Regions from separate parts of the Homo sapiens genome. Here region 2 is linked to region 1. The links come from fine-mapping of genetic effects on gene expression. A gene starts in region 1. The other region holds a variant in brackets. All regions are shown on one strand. Distances are from middle to middle. Region 1 holds the start of MGP (matrix Gla protein). Region 2 holds the start of LOC124902885 (a long non-coding RNA gene).

Evidence for each region.
Region 2: its variant is fine-mapped to the expression of MGP in whole blood (TOPMed, PIP 0.91).

The regions. Positions count from the first base shown.
Region 1 is chr12:14,877,569-14,893,696 of GRCh38, forward strand. MGP (matrix Gla protein) reads right to left here and starts at 8,286. Exons shown (of 4, transcript NM_000900.5): 1 at 8,163-8,286; 2 at 6,645-6,677; 3 at 5,404-5,479; 4 at 3,296-4,712. The coding sequence starts at 8,223. The coding sequence ends at 4,571. RefSeq lists an enhancer at 3,174-4,373.
Region 2 is chr12:14,905,681-14,921,808 of GRCh38, forward strand. It overlaps ERP27 (endoplasmic reticulum protein 27), which reads right to left. Exons shown (of 7, transcript NM_152321.4): 4 at 15,252-15,368; 5 at 11,498-11,623; 6 at 9,809-10,006; 7 at 8,359-9,102. The coding sequence ends at 9,055. LOC124902885 (a long non-coding RNA gene) reads left to right here and starts at 4,427. Exons shown (of 2, transcript XR_007063221.1): 1 at 4,427-4,713; 2 at 4,824-4,985. The variant C/G (reference allele first, on the strand shown) is at 7,547.

The sequences.
Region 1 (16,128 bases):
ACATATAGTCTACCTACTGGGGACACAGCCCTATGCAATGCTTGGTAGTTTAGGGTATGTAACACATCCTGGATTAAGGTGTCTCATTCTTGCCAGTGAAGCAGAGTAGATTAAAGTGTTTTGTTCTGAACTGACATTAATGGCCAGGGATACTTACTGGTGTAAGGGACATGGCAGAAGGTATATCTAGGAATAATCAGACGGGTAGCAATGTCTGGGTTCCAGAGGAGGGCCAACTAGGATAAAATAGAACCCTAGTTCATAAATAGAGGCAAATATAGGCAAAGCAGAGGCAATAGAGGCAAAGTTTCAGGGTTCCAAATCAGCATGAGTTTAGGATAGAATTCACTCTCATTAGAGCTCTGTATTATAACAAGGAAGCATTAAAATTGAAGAACTGATGGAAAGGCTACTAATGATAGATAATTAAGGACATCAAGAACTTAAGGTACATATAACAACAGATTATTTACAGATTCCCTCCATTCAAAGGATAAGGGTACATGGTGCTTGCATATATTTTACTACTACTACTACTACTAGTACTACTATATAAGAATGTAAGTTTAGTTCCATTCTAGTATGAATTACTTTGGCTGCAAAAATTTCAAACCCAGTTGAGTACAAAAATGAAGATCACTAATTTTCTAGACTTTTTTGAAACTGCATGCTGCTCAGCATAGGTAGCCATGGCCTGGTGGAGGAGAGGAAGAGTGAAGTGAGTACAAACTAGCCAGTGCTGTTTATAGTGTTTGGCTATGAATCCTGCAGACCGCTCTTCATAGGCAATTGTAGATGCTTGAGGTGTAGGTGTGACTCTCCAAAGAGTCATTGTCTTGCCATTTTTAATATCCAGACCATAGTAATAGTATAATACAATACAATAGAAATAGCTAACAGCTATTGAGCACTTACTACATGCCAGGCAGTGTTTTGTGCACTTTACATATATTAATTTGTTTAATGTTGACAGCAACTCTAAGATAGGTACTAGAATAATCTTATTTTGCAGATAAGGGAGTTGAGGCCCAGTGAGATTACTTAACTTGCCCAAGATTGACACATTCTCAGAGGCAGAGCTGGCATTAAAAACTAGGAGGCCTATCTACAAAGTGCTTATTCTTAGACACTCTTCTAAGATGCAAATTGCTTTTATGGGTGGTGGCAGAGTAATCTGCTTATGTTGAAACACGCTTTGGTTCTCAGGCTAAATTAATCTACAGAAACACCTTACCAAGATGAGCAAAGGGGAAGAGAATAAGACCTGTAATATGTTACTTTATGTGTCTTAGTTCTGAAAAACAAGGATATATCAAAAAAAGAAATTATAGAGCTGAGACGGTAGGTAGATAAAATTTTGACTGAGGTAGAAACTACATTAAAAATAGCTTCATCAGTTTGGAAAGTGTAACTGTACACAATGGGAGGCTGGTAAAAATATATGGGCTATTTGTACACAACTCTTTAAGAAACTGGCTTAAAGAATTAGATTTTATGAGGTCAGTATAACTGAATTTCTCAAGAAAATAGAATTACCTGCCCTTGGGACAGTCACTTAAGTCACTTAGATTTTAAGCTCTCAAATTCTTCAACTGAAAAATGAGGGGATTGAAATAGATTATTGCTGAACCTCTTGACAACTCCAAAACTATAAAACTAGTGTTATGTAACGAATAAAACAAGCTGGAGCGAGAGGATTCTGGAGCTAGAAAATGCTGGTTGACTATTCACTGTTTACCACCCGAATGATTGTCACAGATTTGGTTCCCTAGGAAGCAGACTCTAAGATTTAGAGATTTGTGTGTGAGTGGTTTATTGGGGAACAACACATGAGAGGGGTGAGGCAAGTAGGGCTAGCCAGAGTGAGCATTTGAATTGTGATGTAACTGCAGTATATGTCTGAGCCAATTTTACTGGGGAACTCTGAGGCTGGGATCACCGTTTAAATAGCCCTGCCTGTTTTAATGGACTTTTAGCTAAGATGGAGTCTAAGGAACTAAGGCTCCATCTAAGAAAGGGGGATTTACCTTCCCTTCGGAAACAACTAAAGAAACAGGCAATACATGTGAAAAAATGTCTTTCAAGACCCTGGACATTAGGCAATTAAAGATGGCGATTGCTATGAGATGGAAAACAGAGTAAGTCCTATGACTTCTCCAGCCTATTGCCTTAAGGGAGTTTCTAGGCCATAGCTTAGGGAGAGGGAACCAAGATGGAGTCCAGTGGACATTTTGAGTTGAGGTGGAGTTGAGAGTTCTGGAAAAACACAGCGACTATATTTCACATGGCAAAATACTGCAAAGGAAAGAGTGAGAGGGATCCCTGGATATCAGTGGAGGGCACTCTCGTGCACACACTGGACTGATCGGCATATGTGTGTGGGGAGATTACCATCCAAGAGGAATAGAGGAAACAGTGGCTGCTGTTAACTCAGGGCTACGATTATTGTCATGGGACATTGGGCGCAGTGCTCAGAAAGGTCTTGCCTCAGTGTGGGGAAATAATTAGCCTTAGATTAAATACTGATCAATTTTATCCACATCATTTAACGGAATCCCAGAGCAGAGCTCAGGAACACATACAGAAATAGAAGAATATCCAGTACACAAAAAGTCTGGCATCAAATAAAATTAAGCAAGAATGCAGAAAATAAAATTTTCTGCATTTTGGCATCAAATAAATGTCTGGCATCAAATGATGTCTGGCGTCAAATAAAATTAAGCAAGAATGCAGAAAAGTAGAAAATTGTGGTTCATAAGTAGAATAATCAACCAATCAAACCAACCCATAACTGACATTATGTTAAAATAGTTATTGGAACAATTTAAATGTATCAAAGACATTTAAAAAGATAAGTAGAGGCGTGGAAGATATGAAAACATCCAAATCAAACTTCTGGTGATTAAAACCACAATGTCTGGCATGAAAAATACACTAGATGAAATTAATAGTAGATTAGATATTGCCAAAGAAAAGGTTAATGAACCTGATGACACATTAATAGAAAGTGTCAAAAATAAAACACACAGAGAAAAGCAATTTGTAAAAATTAAAATAACATCAGAGAGTTGGATTACTTCAAGTGGTCAAATGTGCATGTCATTGGACCCTCTAAAGGAGAGGAGGAGTGAGGGATCAAAGTATCTGAAAAAATAATGGCTGAAAATTTTTCTAATTTTATGCAATCCAAGAAGGTCAATAAGCCTCAAGAACAAGAAAAATAAGAAAAATCAAATCAAGATAGGTCTGAATCAATTTGGTCAAAAGCACTAATAAAGATAAAAATGTTAGAAGCAGCCAGAGATAAAAGATGCAGTATACACAGTGGAACAAAGGTAAGAATTACAACAAATTTTATATCGAAAAATTGTGCAAGCTAGAATTCAGTGGAATACCTTAAAATAATTAAAAGAAACGTGGCAACTTGGGATTCAATATACAGTGAAAATATCTTTCAAGAATAAAAACAAGCATACAAAACTTAAAGAATCCTGCAGACCTGAACTATAAAAAACGTTAAAGGAAGTCGTCAGGCAGAAAGGAAGTGACACCAGATGGAAAGAAGAATGAAGAAAACAGGAAATGAAAATTACATGGGTAAATATATGAGATCTTTTCTTTCTTTTCTTTTTTATTTTTCTGTAGAGACAGAGTCTCACTCTGTTTCACAGGCTGGAGTGCATTGGTATGGTCATGGCTACTGAGATTACAGGTGTGGCCACTGTGCCTGGCCCGGGATATTTTCTTATTATCTAAACTTTAAAAGAAATTATTAAAATTATTTAAAGCAAGAATAGTAAAAATGTAGCGTGGAACCTTTAACAAATGTAGAAGTAAAAATATAACATAAGTAGAAGTAAAAAATAATTGGATTGTTTAGACTATTTACATATAATGTGATTATTGATATAGTTAAGTGTATAAACTATTATTGACAGTTTTTGCCAATTGCTTTTATTTGTCCCTTCTGCTTTCTCTTTTCCTTTTCCTCCTTTTTTCTCTTCTAGATTATCTTGATTCAGAAATGTTTTTGACTTTGATGCATAAGAGATGAAAAGCAAATGAAGGGAGCCCTGTATTTGCCACAATTTACAATAGGAAAATCCTGCAAAAAACATACCAGATTCCATTCACGGATTCCAAGGTAGAGAGGGTTTAGAGAATTTATGGCTGAGTGAGTGCCTTCTTAGCTTCCTTCTTTTTATGTAGTTATTTTTCTAATTAATACTAGATATGAGATGAACAGAATCTCCTATTTTGGGTAAGGTGGGCCATGATTTAAATATCTCAATATCTTCCCAAAAGAAAGCAGATTTACAAGATGAAAGTATCACACCAGAAGTTTATTATGGAACAATCACATATGTTGACTCTCCTTTGACCCTCACTGCAGTGCACTTTCATTACTTATCAATCTGGGGGCGGGAAAAAGGGGTGCAGCCAGACAAGAGAATATACAGGAAAGAAGCATTGTATATAAGCCTATGTATTTCTGTAATGCTGCTACAGGGGGATACAAAATCAGGTGCCAGCCTCCAGAAAAAAAGAGATTTTTTTTCTTCCCTCAGTCTCATTTGGTCCCTCGGCGCTTCCTGAAGTAGCGATTATAGGCAGCATTGTATCCATAAACCATGGCGTAGCGTTCGCAAAGTCTGTAGTCATCACAGGCTTCCCTATTGAGCTCGTGGACAGGCTTAGAGCGTTCTCGGATCCTAGAAAGTGGAAGAAGAGGCCAAAATTGAGAAGGATAAAGTGGAAAAATACAAAAATGGAAAAGAAGAAGAAAATATTGGAGAGACTTTCTCTCCATGCCCCCCTATATTAAGAGATATTTAAAGAACAGGGAGAGGCTGGGTGCGGTGGCTCAGGCCTGTAATCCCAGCACTTTGGGAGGCTGAGGTGGGTGGATCACTTGAGGTCAGGAGTTCAAGACTAGCCTGGCCAACATGACAAAACCCCGTCTCTACAAAAAATGCAAAAATAGCTGGACATGGTAGCACGTGCCTGTAATCCCAGCTACTTGGGAGGCTGAGGCACGAGATAGTGCCACTATAATCCAGTCTGGGCAACAGAGTGAGACTCTGTCTCAGAAAAACCAACCAACCAACCAAAAAAAAAACCAGGGAGGGAAGGCAGAACAGGAGATTTTTTTTTTTTTTTTAATGAAAATAGAAGTTTTCTTTCTGTCCTCCTTTCTCTCCTCCTTCCTTCTCCTTTCCGGATCTTTCCCCAAATAATTTTCTAATAATTCAGTTGTTTTCTGAATATTGCTTTTAAGTTTTTTGATTTTAAAGATACAATTAGAAATAATGTATATGATGAAAAAGCTGTTTCCCACTCCAATTCAGATCTGTGATCTACACTGGGAAAAATGACCACTCCTCATGAAGTTTTGTTACTGACCTCTCTTGGACTTTAGCTCTCCATCTCTGCTGAGGGGATATGAAGGTATTTGCATTTCTCCTGTTAATGAAGGGATCTTAGAACAGAAAATAAATAAATGCAGTTTTAGCGACACATAGCTGGAAATATTTCCGTGAATATTCCTTGACACAAATATATTTGAAAGTGCCTTAACTTATGCAACTCATATAAACGGAGATTGGCAAAAATTAAAGGAGAGTATAAAGTAGATTTCATTAACTTCCTGATCAAATGAAATCAGTAATCAATCCATGTGTCTTAGAGACTTGTCATATAGGCTTTGTTGGTTTTGAGTTTGGACGATCACTTTGCCTTTCTTAATTTCTGTATTTCTACTTGGTAGATTTTAAATTCCTTTTGAGGAGAAATTCTCTGTCCTGAGGATTTATGAAGCATAACTAGATTGCCGATACATGAACAGTTTAAACACTATAAAAATAATGAATAAATTAAAAATGAGAGTGATGTGCCATTTCCTCCTATGCTCAGTCTTTATAAATCCAGCTATTCAACAGCAATCAGCTGGCTGGGTGTGGTGGCTCATGCCTGTAATCCCGGCACTTTGGGAGGCTGTGGTGGGTGGATCACTTGAGGCCAGGAGTTCGAGACCAGCCTGGACAACATGGTGAAACCCCATCTCTACTAAAAATACAAAAATTAGCCAGGCATGATGTCATGGGCCTGTAATCCCAGCTACTCAGGAGGCTGAGGCATGAGAATTGCCTGAACCTGGGAGGTGGAGGTTGCGGCGAGCCGAGATCACACCACTGCACTCTAGCCTGGGCGACAGAGTGAGACACTGTCTCAAAAAAAAAAACAAGAAAGAAAAACACAAAAAAACCAAAACAGCACTCAGCTTAACGTGGCGCCTGTGGTCTCCCAGCTGACTTGGCGTCCAGCTCTGTGCTTTACCATTTGTCATTACTCCTCGTTTTCCATCTGTGCAGTTGACGTGGTGCCAATTTAAAATTTCCAAATGAGATTTTATGGCTTCTAAATATGTCGCCTGTAGCTTAAATCCCATATTGCACTACTTCAAACTTAAAAAATTGCTCCTTTGGCAATTTTTATAGTCATTAGATTTAAAAATTTACTTTAGTTTTCCAAAAGAGGCCCCCTTTTCCCTCCCTGTTATATATCTTTCCATCTTGTTTATTTAAAAATAAGAAGAGGTTCTTTAATGCAAGGGATTTGAATAAAGAAGTTAAATATTCACTTACTAAGTTCATAAGATTCCATGCTTTCATGTGATTCTGAAATTAAAAAAAAAAGATTCATTATATCAATATTTATCCATGATTCATTATGTTATTATTTATCAATTTAGACACTGTGATAGTTTAAATACAGGGATGGAAGAAGAGGAAAGAGTCTAAAAACATGAAGAATATATTTAGCAGTGTGGTTATTAGAAATTTCAGGAATTTAGGATTTATGAGGTTTTTCTCTAGCTCTGGCCTTGCTGTGGATATCTCTATATTTTAGTTTCTCTGATGTTGAAGGAGGGAGTGGCCATTTTCAGCTAAAATTTCCCAAGGGCTATGACGTCTTCAGACAAGCAAAATAAGACACTTTAAGTGCTGTACAGAAGTCTCCAGAGAACCTTCTTCTCTGATTTATTCAGAGCCTGTTTGAGAACAGGGTCAAAGAGGATTAAGAAGGATCCAGAAGACAGCCAGGTTTCTCCAGGCAAGAGAACTACAGGGCAGTTGCTCTGCTGGGCTTACTAGGGCAGGTTTCTAAGAGGGTTCCGAAAGCCTCTTAAGAACCTGTGTTAAATTGGCAGCCACAGAAACCACTAGCTCCAGCTGACAGCTCACCCTGGGCACGATGCCAGTTCAGAGAGAGAACTGAAACGATATCAAAGCCGAAGTTTTCTTCTTTCTGCCACTCTCCTGAGCACAGCAGATAAATTTTGGAATAAGAAGCTTCTATTAATATTTGCCAGCAAGTGAATTTTCTTCAAAACTTAAAAAGGAGGTGAAGAAATCAAATCCTCTAATACAGAAAATTTGTGAATACAAGAGTGAGAAGCATAATCTTTATGGTTGTTAATGTAATTTAAATTTTAAAACAATGAAAATATCTAGGTAATTGAAACAAAAGACTGAAATAAGTAAATAACTTTGCTTCAGATTTCCTTTTATAAGCTTTGAACAAATGCAGGTATATTTAATGACATATAGAAAACAGGCAAAATTTATTTTCTGACAACAGGAGTTATGAAAATGATTCTTTTCTAAAATTCTTTTGATGTAAAACTTTATTTTAAAATTAATTAACTGAACAAACATAGTAAGTTCATGAGATTGTCCAGTCCCTAGAAAGGGCTATACTTAATACTTCACATAAAAATGGATTTTCTCAAAGGCAAGTGGTTTAAACAATACCCTTAACCCATTGATACCAAAGTCTAAATAAATATCCTTAAAAATGAGGATGCAGGGGGCTGGGAATTTGGTATCTTCTTTCTGAAATATGAGTTTCTAGATATACAGAGACTTACCACTGAACGGGTTTGCCTGTTAAGTTGCATAAGACTCTGGATATTTAGGATATAAAAAAGACTTAATAGAACAGATCAGTTTCTGCGGAGACTGGGAAATGTGAAAGTAATGGTACTTTAAGATTATAACAGAGAAAGGGGGAAGAAGAGGAGGAGGGAGAGGAAAAATAGAAGTAAGCCAAAGTCAGAGGCAGAAAAGTAAACACAGAGAAATGGGAGAAAAGTTTCTCACCATAACACAAAGTTACTACCGCTAAGGCGGCCAGGATGGCAAGAAGGATCAGGCTCTTCATGGTTTCGTCCTGCAGGTCAGTCTCAGGGTCTTGTGTAGCAGCAGTAGGGAGAGAGGCTCCTACGGGATGTTAGTGGAAGGCTGTGAGGTTTTTATAAGAACCAGAGCAGTTGAGAGGGGAGGAACCAGTGGGAGAGAGCTGGAGAAGGTGGGGAAGGGTTGGCACTGAACTAGCATTGGAACTTTTCCCAAACAGTCATTCCTTCCAGATATTATCTACTCTGAGTGGGCAGTTTTCCCTAACTGCTGGACCTGACTGTGTTACACAGGATGCTGCTCTGGTGCAGAAGTTTTGGCCATCGTATGCTTGGGGACAGACCTGGGCAAAAGCCCACAGAGGAAGTTGCCACAAACACATGATCTACCCTCCTGGCCCTGACCGCAGGGCTTTTGGGTTTGGTCCACAGACAGAGCCCTAGTGTTCTGTTTGTTACCCTGATTGATTGATGAGAGGTTTTGGGGGAGAAAGGACTTCACTTTCTTTTCTTTTCTTCTTTTTAACCTTTGCCTCTTCTTCTAGGAGAACTTCGCTTTCTACACTGATTATAATTTAGACATCTTCCCAGTAGGGCTGAATCCTAGACCAATCTATCAATCCCAGACTAATCAGGCATTTGCCTGGGGATATGCATCTTTGGCATTTTTCCAAGGGTTCATCAGGATGGAGATATCCGGTGCACCATGAGTTCTGTTTCCTTAATCAACACCGTTGTAACTTGCCCATCCAGTTTTGTGACATTAATTCAAACCTGTGCCCTAGTCCTCTTTTAGGCAGCGTATCAGTGCTGGAAAGTGCAGCAAGGATAAGAGGGTACTGTTCTCTCATTTCTGAGGGCGTTGTCTCGATAATTAACTAACTTGATAGACTTTTTAGTGAGTGGCAGGTGAGATGCAAGGTACTGTGCTAGGTGCTGTGGGGGATGTACAGACAAACAACACACCTCCCTAAGGAGGTAAGTAATAGCTACTTACTATTCACTTTGCTCTTTCACTGTAATGTATCCTCAAGCACAGGTTTTCACTACACCATCAGGCCCAGAAGTACTAGCTTATTTTCCACAGGAGGATTTCAGTTTGATGCCTCTGGTTATCTTGTATAGAGAGGTCTTTTCTTTCTTTCTTTTTTTCCCCCTTCTTTTGCAATCACAAAATCTGTCCTACCAGATGTGCCTCTCTTGCTTGGGAACCCAATAGTTTTCTTTGCAGACAACAGACTTGAAGTCACAGAGCAGCAGATTGTAGAAGAGCTACAGCTTCGGGACCTCTGACTCTTGAGCTGGAACAGCAATAGGGCTGGGTTGGGGGTGGGGTGGATGTGTCTTTCAATACTGATGTATTTCAAGGAGCAGTGATGAACTAGGTGGAGCCTCATGCTTCATTCTTTTTGTCTTGTTGGGATGGAGTTTCCCTCCCACCCTCCATCCTGTGAAGAGCTTTTATAAATATTAACAGAGTCCCCATTAAAAGAAATAGCTCCTTTGAAATCTGAAAGATTGAGTTCTGAGGGATCAATAAAATTCAAGTTTTCTCTCCAAAACCTAAGAAATAGATTATCTGTGCGAAAATCTTAAAGAAAATCTCAGAAAGAAGACCGTGTATGTTCATCCTTGATAAATTCAACCATCACAATTTCCACTAATGAGACTGGCGGTTGTTCCACTCTTTAAACCACAACCTACTATGAGTGTTAGTTTCAGTGTCCATCTTGGAAGATGAATCATCTGAATCATTACATGATCAATGAATAATTTAAAGTGCGAAAGCCAGTTCACTATATTGCATGACTTTGGGGGGACAAGCTAGCCATAGATAAAAGTTTTATACGTACTTAGCTTAGTAATTAACCACCAATTAATATAACATCAAACAAGTTGAATTCCAATGTTTCACCCTTAAAATGAGTAGTCTACTCTCCCCATCCCCACTCCATCTCCAGAATTAAAGAGAAATCTTCCCATTTTCCTGCTATAAATATGTGCTTTGCAATGTACATTAGCTCTGTCTTTTCCAGCCAAGTCATAGATGTCTCCTTTATCCCCAAGTTCAAATGACAACTATAATCTTTCAACCTCTGACATCACAATTGTTTTTTTATTTTTACACTCCCAGAAACTAAACTTGAAAATCCTACACTTCTCATTTCAACTTAAGGTTCACCTTTTGTTCACCTTAAATCACTGCTTCCACTGGATTCCCTAAACTTAAGCATTTCTCTTTATCGTCTTGGTTTTTGTAAGGCTAACTTTCTTTTGGGAGCTGTGTCTCTTCGGTCCCTCATCTGCCTTTCCTGTCCATTGCTCTCCCATCTATTTCTGGTTCTTCTCTGCAAAATCCCATTTATATATGATATGTAAAAATTATTAACATGTCTGAGAATCCAGAGCTCTTCTTTTTCTCCTCTGTCACCTTACTCCCCATTTCAAAGACAACTTTGTGAATGCCAACTCCAGTCATATGTTTTTATGATGAGGACTTGGACTAACGCATGAAGCAGGGATGGGAGCTTTGCATTAGAAAGGACCAAGATTGACTCATCTGAGAGAAGACAGAAGAAAAGAATGGAAGTAGGAAAAAAAAAAAAACGGAGAAGGGGAAATGAGAAGAGCCTTACCAATTTGGTTTGCTGGGTGAGTTTTAGGTAGAGACTGAGTGACAGAGAAAAACGGAGGCAGTTGTAGAAGGTGAGACATATTAAAAGCGAGACATGGGAACAGAGAAATAAAAGTTGCTTTGGTTAGGAATAGCATTGTTTGAGATTGCAGAATACTGTCTGAAAATTTTCAGAAAATATTGAAATTTGAACAAATTAATTTTGCCAGCTAGTTTGCATTTTCTTAATTGGGATATCTTGTCAAGACGAGACCACATGAAACTCTAAATTCTAATTAGATTTTAGATAATTATGAAAGACACTTATATAGACATTTTCCCTTAACAAAAAAGAAGTGTTATTCAGAGGAGAGAATATTTGAAGAAACTCCCAGAAGTGATAACAGAAATATGAGACAGTGATATGATTGCCAGTTTTTAAACATGTGTAGGATTCTCCTCATGTGAGGTTGGCAACGTAGGAACTGAAGCAAGAGAAGCCATGGAGTAATACAGATCTCCTATTCCACCTACTCTCAGGCAGAAAAGAGAAGAATGACCATGCCTGTCAGGGCCAGAAGGAGCTTCATGATTTCATAATTCTCCCATCCATCCATCCATCCATCCAGCCAGCCAGCCAGCCAGCCATCCATCAAGTTATCTATCTAGCCAACAAATGTACTGAGCATCTACTGTTTGTCAACTCTAGGCTGGAAATACAGTAGAGAAAAATACAGATATGGGCCCTGTCCTCATGCATCAAGTGTGCTCTTTGAACAAAAATTTAATAGTGGCTCCTCTTATTTAAAAAATTGTTAGGCAGCCAACTGGCCTTAAAGGAGACCAAGTGATGAGCTTTCTCACTGGGCTGACCATTCTTATGGGCACTCAGGAGCATCTCTGTTTCCAAAGCATCAAGAAAGGTGCTAGTGACCAGCTCAGATAATTCTGAATTTAGGGAGGGAATGCAGGAGAGGAACATTGGCAGAGCTTCTGAGAATTACTGTGGGGAGAAGCTTCTCAGAAAAGTATATTTGCCAGAGAATATACCAAAAGAGTTATCCCTTTCACATGGTATTTCTGTGACTAAAATAATGGCATAGAGGTAGAAAGTGTAATATATTTCCCTATCAATTCTACCTCCTTCTCTTTCTGTCCTTGCTTATCCTTTAACTAACTCTTTTTCAGATGGCTAGGCATTTTGTCTCTTTGAGGAATTTTCCTGGCTCCAGTCAGATTTCTTTTTCTTTTTTGCTGTTCCATGAAATTCAGCTTTATTTACTGAATTTTGATTTTATAATTTTTTTTAAACTGGCAGCACTAAAGTCCTTACCCTTGCCATTAAAGGAAAAACGCAAATGAAAGAAGAGTTAGGAAGAAGCAGCCCTGAAGACAAAAACAGAAATCACTCTCTAGGACATCAAAGAACAATGAACTAGGAGACAGAAGCCCAGCCAATGTCGTGGGACAGTGCCATGCTCTTAGTTCTTTTCTTTTAAGGGAAGCCCCTTGAGAGGATTCTGTGTGTCAGATTCTTTAACTGACATAACTTCCTAGGCACAGATAGAATCCTTCTTTCCTTTCCTTAATTTGTCTTAGTTGAACTAAGTAAGAATAAATGTTTGTCAAACTCAGGCATGGGAGGAGCATCTGGGGACTCATGGGCTGAAACTTCCAGGGAAAGTTGGAGGTGCCTGATTATTAAACAAAATAAAGGTGGAGAAGTCTGAGAGGTGGAGAGCTTTTGGCTGGGAATGGCTGGGATTTTTCTTTTCCTCCCCTATCGATTATTTCCTCCACCCTTCTTAAGAAAAGCTTCAATTTTTAAATAAGATAGCAAATATCAAATAAAAATTATACATCTATCCAAGCGCTATTATCATATGTCAAATGCTTGCTATATATTAGATGCTCTGATAGTCACTCTTTATTTTTTATTTACTTCTCTTAATAATCCTATAAGCTAAGTATAATGACCCACATCTCATATATAAGAAAATGGAAGCTCAAAGAGGTAAAATAGTTTATCCAAGATCACACAACAACTAAATGGCAAAGACAGGATTAAAACGCAGGACTGTTTGATGTCAAATCGTGTGTTTTTAATAATGATACAACCATGTGAGATCCCTCCAGGTTCTGACACCTGCTTAAATAATTTTGTGATTGCGTCTTACAGGGTTCCTTGAATTTCAAATTTCATAGCTAGAGACAAAATTACACAAAATTAAGATATACACATTTAAAATGATAATTGTCTCAAAATCCTTTAAAATAGTGCAATACAAATTAAAGGTCTACATACACTTAAGCCCAGTGAGTTAAATGACTTATAAAAATGGAGAGAGGGATAGTTTTAATATTGGATCCTAAGTCCCCTGTTTCTCTCTCCAGTACACTGCACACTAAACATCTGCCCAAACAAGCTCCAACTCAAATATGGTACTTTCCAAAACCTTTCAGCTTCCTTCAGGAATCACCAAGTCTCATCCAGTCTGTGAACGCCGATGTTTGCTGTCATCTGACACTTGCTCTGGTTTGGTGTATCTGACATATTAAGAATGTCGTCTCCCAGTGCACAAGGCCAATTTCTATAGTTACTTAGACCACCGCCCCCGTCCCCACCCCCAGAAAACTGGAAATCTCAGCTTAATTTATAGAATGCTCTGTCAACTCAAAGCAAAATAGAGAGCAGGTTCTATGTCTCCTGTCTTGACTAAAGATGAAGATGTCTTGACTAAAGGCTGGCTATTTACTCATTAGACTCTGGCTGCCTTTTCTGGATGAGGTGCAATCAAGACAAAGTCCGAGGAATTTCTCCTGCAGTACCATGGTCTCAGCTGGAAAAGAAGGCACCCTTTTATATCTATTCTGCTGTCATCCCACACTTTGGGATATCCTCGTAATCTCCTTTCATTATTCCAAATCACCAAAGTAAAAACACTCCTTTTTATATTCAAGACATTTACAACCCCAAGAAATGGAGCCAAGTAACTTGCAAGAATTGCAGGGGTTATTGGTGACTGGCAGAAACAGGATCCTAAAGGTAGGATTGGTGAGGAGAGGGGATACAAGAACAATGACATGATGTCTCTAGGAGTGAGATGGAAGCAGAGTGGGATTATATTTACCACTTGTGAAGACATGAAGGGAGTAGGGAGAAAGATAGCTTAATTCACCAAATCACAGTACCCAAGAACTTGATAGCACTGGTATGAGTTAAAAGAAGTAGTTTTAGGGAAGATAGAAGTAAAGCTTTAAACAACAGAGAATAATTTTTAAAAGTTAAGTAAACATAACATTCGTTACCAAATGAAGTTAAAACTAGTCGATGATAACTTTTAAAGTTGACATGAGAAATGAAAATATGCTGTCTTTGCAATCCTTCAGTCAGAGGTATGCATCTGAATGGACCCCATGTCTAACCTAAGGGTGCTTCCTTGAAATGGAAATTTAAATCTTTTTTAGGGTGATTTTAAGTTTAGGTAATAAATTAACTAGAAGAATATCTGGTAGTTGCATGAGTCAAATCTACCATGTTCCTTCCATATTCCAGCCCGTACCCATTTCATCTGTTCTGTCGCTCTCTCAAAACAATAACAACAACAAAAAAGCAGATGGTGGAGGGGAGTGAGCATTCCCGAGCTGCACTTCATCTAGATATTCTCTCCATACTTTTGGTAGCTACTCTAACAAACAATCGTTACAAAACCTTGATAGGACTCTAAAGACAGGCTCTGTAGAAGCTGGCCAAAGGATGTAGTTTTTAGGATAAGAAAGCCTGGATTTGACTTCTAGCTCTGCTGCTTTTCCTTTTCTTTTTTTTTTTTTAAATTTTGAGATCGAGTCTTGCTCTGTCGCCAAGGCTGGAGTGCAGTGGCACAATCTCAGCTCCTTGCAACCTCTACCTCCCAGGTTCAAGTGATTCTCCTGCTTCAGCCTGCTGAGTAGCTGGGACTACAGGCTCATGCCACCATGCCCAGCTAATTTTTTTTTATTTTTAGTAGAGACGGGGTTTCACCACGTTGGCCAGGCTGGTCTCAAACTCCTGGCCTCAAGTGATCTGCCTGCCTCGGCCTCCCAAAATGCTGGGATTACAGATGTGAGCCACTGTGCATGGCCTCTACTGCTTACTCTGTGTGTGGCATTTGATACGCTGTTTAAGCTCCTGAGCCTCAGTGACACAGGTAGGGATTATAAGTGTCTGCAACATACTAGATGCTCACTAAGTGTTAGAGGACTCTAACTCAGAGGACCATTAGATGAATTAAATAAGGCAATACCTGCCGAGCTCCTAGCTTAATGGCCTACATACTTTTAATGCTGTGGAGTACATGCACACACAATATTATTTCAAAAAATAGGTTCAACTCCACTGGTCTAGTGTTACTTCCACTTCTTCCCAATAACGAGGGAATAGATTGTTGAAAACCAAAGCAGAGGAGAGAATGCAAAACATGGAAGGGATTGACTCAGCAAGGCCTTGTCCAGTGGGAACTGTGGAACTGGCTGATGCTCAGTGTAGTTCTGACACTGCCACCCAATGGCTGCGTTACTGTTGAGCAAGCCATTTGCCTTTTTAAACAGAAGAGCTGGAATAGACCTGTACAATTTTGTGCTTCTAAATTATTTCATCCTTGAAATGAATAAACACGATAGAGAAATTATATAATTCAGTGTTTGAAGGAACACTTTGTTCTTAATGCAATTTTGCAAGAGTTTCTAGGGCTGATTGGTGTTTGGATGTCCATCCCTCAGCCAACAAACCACTAGCAAGATGCCTTTTAAAAGCTTCATTCAAATAACTGCCTGCCAATAGGCCATGTCTGCTGTTGTTTCCCAGTTGTAGTCAAATAACTTGATTCATTCGAGTTGGATGCTGATACACTTTGAAATCCTTAGGAGAAGAAAGTCAATCTTTTCAGCCAGGATTTGGTCAGTGAGAGAAAGCCCTCCTCCTCGTGGAAGGGATCAGCAACTGAGCAACTCCTCTTTGTCCCATCGCCTAGTCATTACAAACCATGGAAATGGGATGAAATTCAGAAAAGGAAGTTTAGACAGGACGCAGAGGAAAAATGTCCAGGTTAACATGAGAGAGAGAACATCACAGGGAATGCCTTTGCTGATCAATCTAAGAAGAGAACAGGCTGTCAAATAAGTGATTGTTTCCACATCTGATTTCTCCCTGATGGAAAAAAATGCAGTGAAATGTTGGCTGGGCTGACTGTGGAAATCTATTTCAACCCCGCCTGCTGGTGTTTGTTTAAGCGGTCCTGTAACCAGAGTTTGTCTGAATCTCAGGGGCCTTGCTCTGACT
Region 2 (16,128 bases), 28 kb after region 1:
GAAAACTGAGTCTCAGAGAAGTTAGATGTTTTTGCCTCTGCATTCACAGCCATAGATTAAAGCAATGTATCACTAAATTACCAGACAGTACCTACAAATGGGGAGATTTAATTTTGGCTTCTGTCGGTTGGGAACATAAATGTGGCAACAATTCAATTTGCACACAGTTGAGCATAGATTCACAGCCAACTCTTTTTTTTTTTTTTTTTTGAAAAGGAGTCTCGCTCTGTCACTCAGGCTAGAGTGCAGTGGCACGATCTTGGCTCACTGCAAACTCCACCTCCTGGGTTCAAGTGATTCTCCTGCCTCAGTCTCCCAAGTAGCTGGGACTACAGGCACCCACCACCACACCCAGCTAATTTTTATACTTTTAGTAGAGACAGGGTTTCACCATATTGGCCAGGCTGGTCTCGAACTCCTGACCTTGTGATCCCCCCGCCTCGGCCTCCTAGAGTGCTGGGATTACAGGCATGAGCCATGGTGCCCGGCCCACAGTAAACTCTTTAGTAATTGGTAGACTCTGTGTTTGGAGATTATCTGGCTTCTTCCCTCTCCTTCTCAGCCATTTTAGGGTGCCTTCAGTAGTGCTTCAGCATTTAGATGCAGGTAGGTGTGTACTTAATCAACGTTTAAGGAATGTCTGAGTCCAGGCCAAAGTCAATGTGTATTTTTACATTTCAGAATGCTTTCCATTCCTCATCTCGCTTAATCCCTACAGTATACTTATAAGGAGACAGAAAGTTAATTTGAGCTGGATGTGATGGCAAGTGCCTATTGTCCCAGCTACTCAGGAGGCTGAAGCAGGAGGATTGCTTGAGCCCAGGAGTTCAAGGTTACAGCTATGATCATACCACTGCACTCCACCTTGGGTGACAGAGTGAGACCCTATCTCACGAAAAAAACTGTAAAAAAAAAAAAAAAAAAAAAGAAAAGAAAATTAATTTGAACTCTATTTCACCTGTGGAGAAAACGAGATACAGTGATATTCCCAAAATGGCATACTGAGTTTCACAGGGAGGTCAGGATTAGAACCCAAATATCCCTCCTCTAATTTTCTTTACAGTGGGCCATGATCTCCCCCCAATCCCCTCCATTAATAGGAATTAGAGAAGTTGTAACAGTAAATGAATCCCGAAATGTACAATGGAAAGTTGTACAGTAAATGAATACTGAGATGTAGTGAAGTTGTACAGTAAATTAATACTAAATACTATGTTCATTTTCACAAAAAGTGCTTCTAGTTAATTTACTTCAACATGTTGGGCTAATTTTGGAGATGTACAACATTTGGAACCAGAACAGTCATTTCATTTCTAAGACTCATTGTTTTAAAATTTAACTCTTCATGCCCAAAGAGACATCTTCTTTCACAGGCCCCTTCATGATGAATGATACTCCTTCCTTGACTCTTCCAATGTACAGTCATTTTCCAATGGCAGACTGCAAAAGACTAGATGTTTCAACTAAACCAAACACTAACAGTCCTTTGAGTGCTGAGCACCATAACTGGTGAAGACAATGGCTGCTTGGAAAAGTGACTTTATCCTTAGGAGATTTCTCCATTCCCTTGAGATTTCTTCCCTTTCATACAACTGTGACCACTTTGTTCAGATCTTAGAGGCTCAATCTCTCTATAGTAAAAATAAAATAAAACCTTCTATCTCAAAGGATTTTTTAGTATCTTTATTTAAGGGGTGTGTCTTTTACAGAAACGTAGAAATTTGTAGAGGAGGATGAGAAATTAATATTAGTTCTATGAACAAAATAGCCTTTGCTGTGGTTTGGGTTCTATTCTGTTTTTGATGACTAAGAATCATAACTAATAATGGCCTCTTCAAAATACATTTCTTTTAAGAGCCTGATTGATGGTTATCACAGCTTTCCTCATTCATTCGTTAGTTATCAAGTGACGAAGTCCTTTTAAGTTCATTCCTAAAATTTCCATCTCTGCTTAGAATTTGATAACATTGAACTTAAAATCAGACATTTTGAGAGGCATGTAGAAATTGTGTTTTGTGACCTGTGCTTTCCAGAAATGGCTATGTTAAGATACAAAGTTGTAATTAGAATCACACAGACAGAAATGGTGAATCTTCTTGAGGAAACCTTGAGAAACTTGAATATTTTGCAACTTAGAAAATTGGAAAATGAGAAAATGGAGGAACCAGAGGGTCATAAGACAGTTCTCAAACTGTAGATAGCCTTTAGTAAATTGCCATTTTAACACTTTGTCTGGCTTGCATAATTATCTCCAGCCTTAACTATATTGGCTACCATTCTTTCCTAAACATCAGCTGGCTTCAACAGAGCAGTGATTCTCTGACCCATTAGCACTCACCTTACAAGTCAACATCACATTATCACCCACCACCATTCTTGTATTTCACAATCATGTAAATATCCTACCACAAACCACCCTGCCCTCCCATGAACACCTAACATTACCACTTGTTGGCTGACTTAGCCTCTTCCCTTCCTCAGCCTTGGTATATTATTAGTGGTGTTATGGGAAAAAACAGCATGGAGTCAAGAGAATGAGTCAATCCAAGAGAGGCTGCAGGTCTGAGGAGTTAGGTCACAAGTAGTCATTCTTCCCCATTTTCATTCTGTGACGTGTTTGCCAAAGTGTGGTGGAGTAAAGGGTATGTAGGTCTCAAAAGAGTGCCCTTTGGAACCAATAAGATTCTGATGGTCATGGTGTACCAGGTAGAGATTGCAGGACAGGGCCAGAACTTTCAACGTACTGTTCAATATGTATCCACCTCCTTTCAGAGACTTCCTTCCCTGATCATTCCCCTTTGTGCTCAGCCCTCATATTATCACTCAACCTGCCTGAACTTTTGTCCCATGTAGTGACCTAGAGCAACATTATTTGAAGAGATGGAGATGGAGGGAGAAGTAGAGATAGAGGCCATGAACTGGTAGGAAAGTAGTAAAGGATGGACCACAGGGTGGGCAATTATTAGCAAAAAGGAGGATGTGGCAGGAGTGAGGAGCAGGAAATGAAGACAGGAAGGTAAGGTACTACCAACTCTGGACATAAAGACAAGAGATATTTAACAACAGATAAGATCACCTCCATGAAATTTAGCTGGCATAAATAAGCATTAAGGTCAGAATTTGGAGTTAAATCTAACATCGTTTTTTGCTCACTCCCAAGTTACTATACAAGTCTTTGCCTTATTCTTATTGCGTATACATCATCATCATTATTATTATCATTAAAATATTTGACTATCTACTAAGTACATTAGAAATTCAGGCCATTCCTCAAGTTCCCAGTGAACTTCATGTTTATCTTACACTAGGGAACTAGATGGCTGGAGAGGAGAAGATGTGAAGTCAACATTAGGCTTCGTGAGTCTGATCTATTTCCTCGACCTCCTGGGCTCAAGGAACCCTCCCACCTTAGCCTTCTGAGTAGCTGGGACTACAGGTGCATGCCACGACACCCTGGTTATTTTTTATTTTTTGTAGAGACAGGGTCTCACTATATTGTTCAGGCTAGTCTTGAACTCTTGGCCTCAAGTGATCCTTCCACCTAAGCCTCCCAAAATGTTAGGATTACTGTTGTGAACCACTGCACCTGGCCAGATCTATTTCCTGATACATCTTTATCTCTTAGTAGGCACTCAAGAAATGCTTGGTGAGGGAATGAATGAGTGAGTGATTGTAAAGTGAATACTTCTACTGCCCCGGCAGGATTACCTTTTAGTGAAGACAACATAGACGTGTTCTCCCCCAGCACAAACTTAATGAGGGTGCTACATCTTTTATTTGATAAAATGAATCCATCCTTTCCTTATTCTTTTGCATAGCATTGGTGCAATAACTATGATGGTATAAAAGGAGATACAGTTCTAGACATGTGTAGTGGATGCTGTGGTGAGCCGCACAGATCACCCCAAAGTCATTAGCTTCTCCCAGCTCTGAGTATGTTGACAGCTAAGAGCTCTTAGATGAATCCCACCCACCAACCAGCCCAGAAATCTCCCTCTGCTCAAATGAGCCATCTTGCCCACGAGCATGCACCTTTCCTATGTGCAGCTTGCAACATCAGATGTTCAATGTTGGGGTATAGAGGCCTGGGTCTCATTCTCCAATTTGGGGTACTCTACAAGGAAACCTCAGCACCAAATATCCACATGGGATAATCTAAGCCTTTGTTGTGACTGCATCGCAGCCTAACTTATATTTCTGTGGAACCCTACTTTCTTTATTTCTTCACAGATCCCCAGACGCTCCCCAATAAACTCCTTGCAATGGAATTTAGTTGCAGAGTCTTCTTGGAAAACATGACCCGTAATACAATGTTAATTTTAAAATTAACAATTTTAAAATTGTTACTTCACCACAGCTTGAATTATGTCAAACGTGCTCTATTTTTTCTTCCTTAAGTGTATGCTAACACCATATTACCATTTTAAGACCAGTGGGCTAATGTAGAAATTAAATCCTGCTATTAAGATTTAGTGAAATTGTTTGGATAATTAAACATTAAAGCCTGGATTCCACACAACTTTTCATAAACTATAGAAGTGGCTTAACACCCTCATCCTTTACTCACACATATCCTTCCACCCCTAGTATGACTCAGATATTTCATTGTCAAGGCCACAAAAACAATGACTTCTTGTTCCAGAACAGAAAGAAAAGAGAGACCTATCTTAGAAGTGATTCGAAGGAGGGTGAATCACCTTCAAATTTACAGAGGTATGATTTTAAAATTCACTTGCTTCTTTGATTTCCAGAGTACCTTTTTTCCAAAAGTTCAACACTCAAAAGGTGTTCGTGTTTAACTTTCTCCTTTTCCAATTCTCTAGGTCTCGCCATGTAAGGTTTCTGCAATTAGGAGCCATGAGTCAGATCCATCCCACTTCCAGTCTTACTTTTCTCTGTTTAGAAAACCAGATATTTTCAGAAAGGTGAAATAAATAGGACTGGTTCCAAATTCAATTGTGAAATAAAGTTAGCTTATGATGGTTGTGGACTGTTTCCTTTGTGGCTCCTCCTCCCCCAGCTCTGGGGCCCCCTCAGCCCACGGCCAGCCTCCTGCCCAGTCCCCTCCACAACATACCTCTTTCTTTGTGTATTGCTTTCCCTGTTTGGCTGCTTTCTGTCCGTGACTCAGAACCATTCTGGTGGCTTCCATGTTGCCTGTTGTCACTACAACTGAAAAGTCTCTGTTCTATAGCTCATCATCCAATCATCACCAATTGCTCTCTCTCTCTCAGAGGGCAGCTTTGCCTGCCACACTCATAGTTGTTTAATGAATATTTAAATGAGTGAATGAGTATATAAATAAACTACTCTCTCTCAATACGCTACATAGCCCTCATCCTACCCCTGACTGCTCAAGGTATATGTGTATTAAGATGGGCCTGATGAATGCAGCCTTCCCTTCTGGCATGACCCAATAGGCGAGGAAGGACAGGAATCCCCTGACAAGTGGACGTTGGGGCTGTTTTACTATGTATTTCTAATGCTTTGACATCTGGGACTTTGCTTACCTTGGAGAGATTGCCCCTCCCTCCTAGAGATAGCCAATTCCTGGAGATAGTAATAAACTCACCTGCTAGTATAGCTTTTATATGCAAACCAACCAGTCCAGAGTCCATACCCCAACTATCTCCTTACTGGACTCTCATGGGGCTCTCACATGCTGGGCTACCACCCAGCCACTCCACCCAGGGCCAGGTTCCAGGCAACAAGGGAAAGCTCCTATGCCCCAGAGCCTGCTGAAATTATCGAAACCAGCCAATCCTAAGCCTCCTTACCCTCCTAACCCTTTCCCATTTCTTCCCATGGAGACCATAATAAAGGCCCTTGTCATTTCACCTTTACTCCTTCTGCCTTCTGACTGACCCTGATACTTCCCTATGTGGCCCTGCACAGCATGGCATGCTGCCTCCTCTTGGGAACTGTGAGTAATAAACTATCTTTCAAATGGCTATCTTTTTTGATCTGTTGGCCACCCCATACCTAGAAAACAATAAAAGCTACATTTAAAATCTGTTATCTCAAATACTTTTTCAGCCTCAAAGAAACAGCCTGAATGAAGTCTCTGCCTTCCCGTAAGTTCTAACAATTAGAGAAATGATTATTTCCCAGAGAAGGCAATGTAGTATTAACTTAAGAGAAAAGTAATAGCCAAACTTTACTTAATAGGGATTATCACCCTGGGATCTCAAGCAATCCTAATAATTATTACATTAACCTTAATAAACTAAAGTTCAAAGATAAAAGTAATTTTTCCAGTGTCATAGAGGCACATACATAGAATAGGTGAGACTCAAACCCAAACTTTCCAGTCATTCCTTTGAATCCTGCTTCAGTCCCGCTCCTTCCATCATAGTCTTCCAAATATGTTAACATCTTTTTCAAATTTATATTGTATAATATTATCACTTCCTTCGTACTCTAAAGAAAAAGTATGGCAGTCTTGTCAGTGAGGGCCATTGAATGATTCCACAATGAAAAATAGCTGAGATGTATCCAGACATCTCAACAATAACATAGCCCTGGGGAAATGGATGTAGACCTGGCAAAAGATTCTCAAGACAGAGAAAAAATTGCAGATGTTTATAAGATCTGATTTTTTTTTTTTTTTTTGAGACAGAGTCTCTCTCTGTTGCCCAGGCTGGAGTGCAATGGCAGGATCCAGGATCTCGGCTCACTGCAACCTCCACCTCCCAGGTTTAATCGATTCTCCTGCCTCAGCCTGCTGAGTAGCTGGGATTACAAGCCTGCACCACCATGCCCGGCCAATTTTTTTTTTTTTTTTTGTATTTCTTGTTTTTTTTTTTTAAGGAGAGACAGGGTTTCGCCATGTGGGTCAGGCTGGTCTTGAACTCCTGACCTTGTGATCTGCCCGCCTTGGCCTCCCAAAGTGCTGGGATTATAGGCATGAGTCACTGTGCCCTTCTAAAGATCTGATCTTTAATAAATGGGTGAATCTTTACAAATTTCTTCTTTCTGAAGTCCCATTCTTTGGTTATGAGACCCCCGGAGCTACAAAGAACAGGACTGCCTATGAAGAAGACCGGCAAAAGTAACTGGCAGTTATGAAGAACTACAAGATGAGAAGGAAGGATTCACTTCAATATTATACACATACAAATAAGTATATAAAATAATATAATAAAATTGTTATTGAATGTCAGCAAGTAGAAAAATGCATTGTAAAGATGTTAAGACCCATGTGGTCCATTTTGATTATTGTTTTTGAGGGGAACACTTCAAGAAAAATAATTGAAAAATTAGCACAATATCAAACAAAATGTAGCTCATGGGTCCTACTATAGTTTGGGTTCCAACTATTTTAAGCAAGAAAGAGGAAAAGTTGGGAAAGAATGAGGCGAGAAAAACAATGAAGTAAATCAAATGATAAAAACCAAATGATGAGAGTTAGATTGTGAGTATGGGGGAAAGATGGCTAGATAAAGGGGCTTCAGTGCAGCCAGCAAGTGGTTAAAGGCATGGTTTGAGGAGGGCATCTGGAAGCTGTTAAGAATTTCCACAAAGGGTGGGCAAGAAGAAATAGCTT[C/G]CATGGCCAGAGGACCTCAGCTGGATATCAGGAAGAATTTCCTGACCGTAAATGTCAAGAGCTCTCGTTTACAGGATCCAAAGGAGCCTTCTGGGATGTGCCTATCTTAGGAATATTTTTCAGCCTCAAGCGAGAAGCTGTTTGGGTGGTTTTCTGCAGCCCTGGGTTGGACTGTGTGACCTCCACAGAATACCTTGGTCTCGTTGCTGAAGGGCACGCCTTACACTGGGGCTTTCACAGTGTGGTTGCCAGCAGCTGACTCCCGCCCAGGGGCTGTGGAGTTTTCCCCACAGAAAGAACAACTGAGCCTTTCACTCCCTGTTCCTCACTTGGACCAGTCCTTAGGTACATCTGTGGTTTTTCAGCTCTTCAGCACTTAGGCACTTTCCTCCTGAGCCAAGGGCCTCCTGGGAACAATGCAGCATCTGTGTGTTGATAGTAACAGCCTATGGGCCAGAGTCACTCAGCCAAGCTCTCCTTTCACCACACAGGAGCTGGATCACACACCTTACCTGCAATAATCCAAGGCTTAGTCAGCCTCAGCCCGTCCCACTGCCAGTGCCCTGCTTCTCCTATCTGCTCCCCAACCTTTCACCTAATTTGCTTCCTAGCTCAGTTGCCACATTTGTTCCAATCCTCATGCAGGATGGTCTCTATTTTCCACCCATCCCACCCACAGAGTGAACAATAACATGTTAGTGGCTTATGGTCTGACACTAAACAGTGGGCACTGCAGAGGGAGGAACATGCTGCTTAGTTGGGCAGCTGGGTATTTACAAAAGGTTTGGCCTGCAAAGAGATGCCAGCCTTTCTCCTATAACATGATTGCCTTTTATTTATTATGCAGGTTGTTGATTTACATAGGGAGTTGGAGATGCTAACCAAGCATGGAGTTTTCACATGGTCTATTTCTGCTGAGTTCAGGGACTTGGAGACAGCCTTTAACTTCTGGCAAAAAGACAATTTCACAAAGGTGTTTAAAACCATCCTTTGGTTTTTGATCCTGAGTCAGAGACGGACATGTGCTTATGAAAGAAGGTAGAGTTTCAACCCTTAGGTAACCTTAAAAGAGCAGGAACTATGTTGTGTGTAAGTCATGTGCAGTATACAAACTTGATATTAAATGACAAATTGGAACAATCTTTCTCTAGGAATGCCTCTCTTTCATAGAGGCATCACAGTGAGTCTCTTAAAGCCTTGATCTAGGTGTGTTACAGATGGGCTTACAGAGTATGAATGCACGATAAGAAGGAAATTGGATAGGGAGTGAGGATATGAAATTTAAAAGAAGGAAGAAGAGAAAACGAGATTTTAAGACAGGAAATGAAGCTCTGTGTGTGTGTGTGTGTGTGCGTGTGTGTGTGCACGCGTGCGTGCGTGTGTGCACGTGCGTGTGTGTGTGGTTGGCAGGCCTAGTGATCCTGTTGTTTAGTGTCTCTGAGATTTGAGTTGTGCCTTTTTACTTTGCATAAAGTAGATACTTGGCCATATGTAGTTCCAAGGAGAAGTCAGAGTTCCACCTTTGGAGTCTTTCCTTCTGATTCACGATTTTCTTTCTGGAAAACATTATAACAATGATATTTAGATTAGTAAACTGAGCTGTTTACTCCTGGAAGTCCTAAATCCTTCTTTAATTTTTATCTCATGAACCCTGTTATATGAAGTTTGATTTGTTGCCCATTAATGCTTTACACTAAATGCTGAAATCCAAAATTCAGCCTCTGAATATGCAAGGCCTTTCCAAACATGCTTTTCTAGTTTGAGTCTCACGATATATCCTAACAAGCATCCTGACTCCGGCCACCATATCCTCATAGACTTTTGCTTTTAATCAAATCTAGTAGAGCCCAAATAATTTTTTTAACTTTAATTTTTTTGCTTTTATCTTTGTTTTTAATTGACACATAATAGTTACGTTTTTATGGGGTACAGAGTGATATTCTATACATGTATACAGCTTGTAATGATCAAATCAGGACAATTAGCATATCCATTGCTTCAAACATTTATCATTTCTTTGTGTTGGAAACATTCAAAATCTACTCTTCTAGCTATTTGAAAATATATAATACATTGTTCTTAATGACAGCCACCCTGTAGTGCTACAGAACACTAGACATTCCTCCTATCTATCTGCACTTGGTATCCATTAACCAACATTTTGCTCTCCTCCCTCTCTGAGCCCAAAGAATTCTTATTCAACTGGAAATAAAAGGGACATAGAAAGAAAACAATTTGCTTTACCTGCAGTCTCACACTTACCAACAATTTTCCACTTAGGAATCCATCACAAAAGTTTTGCACATGCTCTACGGAAACTTCTGCTGTGGGCAGTGTATCCCACTCGTCATCTAGAGTCTGGTAAATTGCCAAAGCTGGCAGTTGAGACTCCTTTAGTTTGAAAAATGATATCACCTTCCCATTTTCTTTCATACCACTGTCCACCAGAATAAAGAGAATCTGCAGTTGGGGAAGTTTGAAAGAAAAAGTTCTATCTGAGGTGACGTCCAGGGATAAAGAGATACCTTGTAATTGTTGCAGCTCACACTGATTGAATTTATGGTCTGCACCATGAAATTGAAATCTTGAGTTAAAATAAATTATTGCAGCTGTAACAAAGAACAAAATCATGTCTTTTGTGGGAACGTGGATGGGGCTGGAGGCTATTATCCTTAGCAAACTAACACAGGAAGAGAAAACCAAATATCACATGTTCCCACTTCTAAGTGGGAGCTAAATGATGAGAACTCCTGAACACAAAGAAGGGAACAACAGACACTGTGGTCTACTTGGGGGGTGGAGGGTGGGAGGAGGGGGAGGAGCAGAAAAGATCACAATTTGGTGCTGGGCTTAATGTGTGGGTGATGAAATCATCTGTACAACGAAGTCCCATAACACAAGTTCAACTACGTAATAAGCCTTCACATGTACCCCTGAACTTAAAAGTTAAAAAAAATGAATTTCCTATTATTTTGTGTTGCTTTGATGTTTTATCCCTTTGACGAGATTGATTTAATTTTAAGAACATAGAATTGGAAATTACTTTAGTGATTACCTAAGAAAGGAAGTATAGCCTAATGGTTAGGAGCAGAGAGCACGTTTTAAATTCTGCCTCTGGTACTCTCTAGTTACGTGAGTTTGGGCACATTACTCAGCCTCTCCGAGACTCAGTTTTCTCATTGGCAAAATGGGCTTTTGGTGGGGGAAATTAAATGAGGTAACGCATTAATATTTTTATTCAGCTTTTGGCCTATAGTAAGTGCTTGATAAATGTAGATTATTTTATATTATTAAATCAAACCTTCAACCCAAAGTAGAAATCTTCTTTATAATATTCTGATCAGATGATTGTCTACTTTCAGTAACACTAAATACTTTCAGTGTTAGAGAACCAACCATCAGAAAGGCGCTTATTTTATTACCAGACAGTTCTCATCATTAGAACAGTCACTAGTTAGGCACAGTAGCCTTGAAGTAGTTGAAGTTTTACTATTTCAGTAATATCAAGCAGAACTCCACAAAGGAGGGGAGGGAAAGAAAGAAATATTCATTGTATATTGAGCAGGCACCAGGTACTTGATAGGTGTTTTATATGAGAAATGAGCCCTGAGGTCTAAATCTCTATGAAATTATGGGAAGGATTAAACAAATGGTGACTTAGAGGTGATTTTGCTTTCAGTCTCTTTGGATCTCTATTTTCTCTCTACTAATCAATGCAGGAAAAAACCCACACTTAATCACTACAGGAAGATATAATTACATATGCCTTTAATATGATAAAATACAACATCTCTAATTTCAAATAATGTGATTTATTATGTCCTACTTCTTGCTTTGCTATCTCCTAACCATAGTTGTTTTCCTTATTTATCTCTGCTTCCTAGCCCCATCTCCCTTTTCCTAGTGTCCTGGAGGTGTGTATGCAATAGGATATTCCCATTCTTGCCTTACCTTCCCCTGGAAGAGCTTGGCTGCCTTCTGGTATCTGTGCATGTTCTCTTCATACTCTGGGGAGGCCTTGTTCATTATCAGGAGGAGATGAATCTGAATTACGCTGTTGAATAACCCAATCACAGTCTGGCAAGTCGAAATGTGTTACAGTAGAGTGAAAGCGAGAAAGAATGCATTAGTACCTGGGAAGGAGTGAATAGGTAGATTGAAACTTAAATGAGAGCTGGCCACTGGTAACACAAATGGAACTAGCTTCCAAGATGGCTCTCAGTTAAGTCTTACCATCTCGTTTTCATGCAACTGTGTAGATCCTTCCTTCCCACCCTGAATGGGGCAGAACTGAGTAACCAAGACAATGTTGCAGAAATGATGGAGTGTGACTTCCAAGGTGAAGTCTTAAAAGACATTATGGTTTCTGCTCTTCTCTCTATCTCTCACTCTGAGGAATACCAGCCCCAGTGTAGGGCACTCAAGCAGTCCTCTGAGGAGAAACGCATGGCCAGGAACTAAGTCCTTCTACTAACAGCCAGCATTGACTTGCTATTCATGTGAGGGAGCCATCTTGGAAGCAGATCCCCAGCTCCAGTTGAGCCTTCAGATGACTGCAGCCCTGACCAATGACTGCAACCTCCCAAGAGACCTCAAACCAGAAGCACCTAGCCCTAGCCACCCCAAATTGGATGACCTGCAGAAACTGCATGAGATTATCAATGTTTTTTATTTGAAACTCCTAAGATTTGGAGTAATCTGTTTTGCAGCAATAGACAACTAATACACTATGTAACATATTAGTCACTTTATTTCAGCCCCCTCTCTTGTTGCAAGACTAGTCAGAGACACTTAAAATGTAGTCTTTGTTTGAGTACATATTAGTAGTTCGTACTTATTGAGTGTTCATTACGTGGAAGGCACTGTCTCCAACTCTTAACAAAGAATAAGTAATTTAATCTTCAAGGTCCCAGTTTTTCAAATGAGGAAATTGAGGCATAGATAGACTAATTCTCCAAGAGTCAAATAAATGGCAGACAGGGATTCACACCAGGTGGTCTAGCTCCAGAGTCCATGCTCTTGATCATCAGGATGGACTGCCTCATGCACAGTGGATAGCAAAACCCCATATAAACAAACTCGATCTCAAATGTGGTTGAACCAATGTACCAAAGGTCAGCAGAAGGTGAGCTCTTCAGGAGACCAGAAGCATTGACCTTGTTTTGCTGATTAGAGATGGTGATTTTTCCATGAAGTTGTCAATGACTTAGAGGAGTGGAACAGCCACCAGTCAGACAGAGGAGAAGAAAAAGAGGGGAATCCATGGCACTGGTTCCCTTCATTTCACTGTCCTGAAATAATGCTGCGAGTCTACTTCAAACCAATCTCATCTCTTTTCACCTCTCCTAAATTCAGAAAGCATTGCTACAAAACTAGTGTGTACACAGGAAGAGAGAGAACATGGTGGGTTAACAAATCTTTGGTCAGAGTCTTAGGAGGATGGGGAAGGGCACAGCTAGGTAGAATTCTTCCTGATTTTTTACACAAGTTTGTAAAGATTCTCCAGCTCTTTTGGCTGCCTACAATATGTAGGCAAGGAGGGCCCAGTAGGTCCTTTCCTAAAGATTTCTCCGTGGAGTTTAAAATCAAGTTTTAGATTTTTCATTTGGGAGATTGGATGACACATGATTTACTCTTGTTTTACTAAATCCTGCTACTTAAATTTAGAGCATTCATTCACTATTCTAACACTGAGATGGAGGATAATTCCTGGGAAGAGTAAAGAAATAAAAGCTAAGATGTCAAAAGGTACAGTTATCTTGGCAGAAGGGATTGACCATAGCCGAATGGATTCATTTAATCCTAACAGACACCTTGACGCCAAGTACTGAGTGTGTGCATTAAAAGTGCGTGGCAGGTCAGGTGCATGGCTGGGATTTTCTGCCCAGTTGCTACTGGTGCAAACCTTTGCACCAGAAGCAGATGAGAAACAGCTATAGTAGAATGGGCAGTTCTCCAAATGAGAAAAATATTACTTTCAGGAAATAAAAAAAGTAACAATACAGATTGAACTTGCTTCTTTAAAGAAATTCTTACTGAATTTTCTCTTGATATAATCTGCCTTCACTAATAATATGGAACTTAAAAAAGATACGTCATTGCTCTGCGAAATGAGAGACAGATCAGGCATAAGAAACCAGGAAGGTTAGTGCATGCCCCTGCCTTAGCTAGCTTGCAAAATGCCACAACACGGAGGCCATAGCCCAGGGACCATAAGATCATCTTTTCTGGCCCCACATGCAGAAGAACACCTTTTTGATTATTACTGCCAATACCCCAGGGGCATATGTGTTTGGAGCCTTAGCAGAAGTGGAAATAGAGTCACCAACTCCACAGAGATAAAGATGGTGTGAGAGGTAGGCCAGATTTTAGTCCACAAGAAAAGGGGTGTTTCCTGTTGAAGGCAGTGTAGGGCAATAGACAACCACAGGATTCAGTCACAGGCACCAGTCATAAAAAAGCAAGGGCAACTACATAGGCTGTCTCTGAAGCTTGAATTACTAGCCATAGGGCTTTGAAGAAGTTACTTAAATTTTCTGAACTCCCATTTACTCTACTGTAAAATGGAAGTTGGCAAAATGTGCTAATGCATCAGTTACATTTTGTCCCTTAAATTATGCCTTTTCTATTTACTCATGATGTGACTTTGAATAATGTTATCAGTTGGATCTTGAATGTTCTCCTCTATAAAATGGACACAATAATTTCCTCTCTTCTACCTCAAAAAAAATCAATATGAGGATTGAATGAAAAAATGAGGATGAAAGGGCTCTGTAAGTTCTCAAAAATCATACCATGCATGTAAAGAACTGGTATTGGAGAATAGAAGGTACAGCATTTTGAGCTGATGTAGATCACTAGAAATTAATACCCTGTAAGGTTCTGTAATCTATGTCAGGGAAAATAAAGGATGGGACACATAAGATAATTCTGTAGACTGTTATAGTCTATAGAAAGTGTTAGAAGTCCATTTGGTGATCAGGACAGGTGGAGCACCACCTTTACTCAGATTGCATGCAGCATGCAACACCAGAGGAAGACACACCAGGAGAGAAGGCTGAGGCATGGTGAGGGTGTAGGCACTTGCTAGTCAAAGCATGGTTTGCAGCTGCTGCCAGACCAGGAACTGTTTGTTACTGGTCTGCAAGGAGGTACATACAGAAAATGAAATGGTTGTTTAGAAACAATTACAGAAACTTTACATTCCTGTGACATCCAAATATGTGATCAGTGAGCTTCATTTAAAATTTTTTTGTTTGTCTTTCATTTATTCTTATTTTATTTTAGGCACACACCATCATACCTGGCTAATTTTAAAAGTTTTTGGTAGAGACAAGGTCTCGCTATGTTGCCCAGGCTGGTCTCAAACTCCTGGACACGAGTGATCCTCATGCTTTGGCCTCCCACAGTGCTGGGATTACATTTGTGAGCCACTGCACCTGGCCTTGAGTTAGTCACCTTAACTGTGCATTCTGGTTCTCTTTCTTACTAGCAGTGTGATAGTTCATTTAACTTTTCTCTGTTTTTTTGTCTAACAGGAACAAGTTAAATCTTAAAAAGGTGTAGGAAGGATAGTAACATAAACAATACAGTATTGTATTGGTCGAAGAATTGGAACTCTGGGAGGAAGAGACCTCTGTTATGAAGACCAGTACCTTCCCCGACTCAGGGTCTGAAGGGACTAAGAACAGGAAGTATTGTTTACCACAGGGTTGTACTCTGTCACCATGTGGAGGCTGTTGATCTCAATGAAACGGCTCAATTTGGTGGCATCAATGCTTTCAATGTCTTCGTCCTCTAAATTCAGTTGTTCATTGTCTACCTGGATAACACAAAAAAGAATGAAGTCACTATTCCATCTTTTTTTCATGTATTGATAAACGTCTTTAGACCCCCATGTGACAGGCACTGATTAAAGCTCTGAAGACCAAAAGATAAGTAAGAGAGTTTCTCTGCCCTAGGGGGACAAACTGTCCTGTAGACTCCAAAAAAGTGAAGAGAAATTTCCCACATGATGTGGCAGGTGTCATCACAGGAGAATCACAGGCCCGCATGTCACCTATGGAAGAGCAGAAAAGCTTCAAGGAAGAAGTTACTCCTGAAAAGTGGCTAAGACTTGATCAGATAAATGAGGATGAGGAAGGAGCTTTAAATAGAGAACAGCATATGAAAATACTGTGAGATGTGAGAGGTTGCGTTCTGGAAGCTGCTGTTAGTTCACTGTGACCCTACCAGATGTGATGTGAGGGTTGCAGAGAGATCAGCTTAGAGGGATAAGGAAGAGCAAATTTGGAAGTGTTCTGAAGCCAAGGCATGTAGATTAAATTCTATCTGAGGGCAAGGGGGGTCATTGGCAAGGTCAGATTTGTATTATATTTATGTACCCTTTTACTGTGAAATAAAACACATGTAGAGAAAAATATAACACAGTATAAACATTTGCTGTAAAGCTCAGCAAATTATCACAGAGAAAACTATTGTAGAACCACCACCCAAGTCAAGAAATAGAATATTGCTAGAACCCCTGAAGTCCTGGTGCTTCCTTCTAGTTTATAATTCATCCTTTTTTTTTTGCCAAAGGT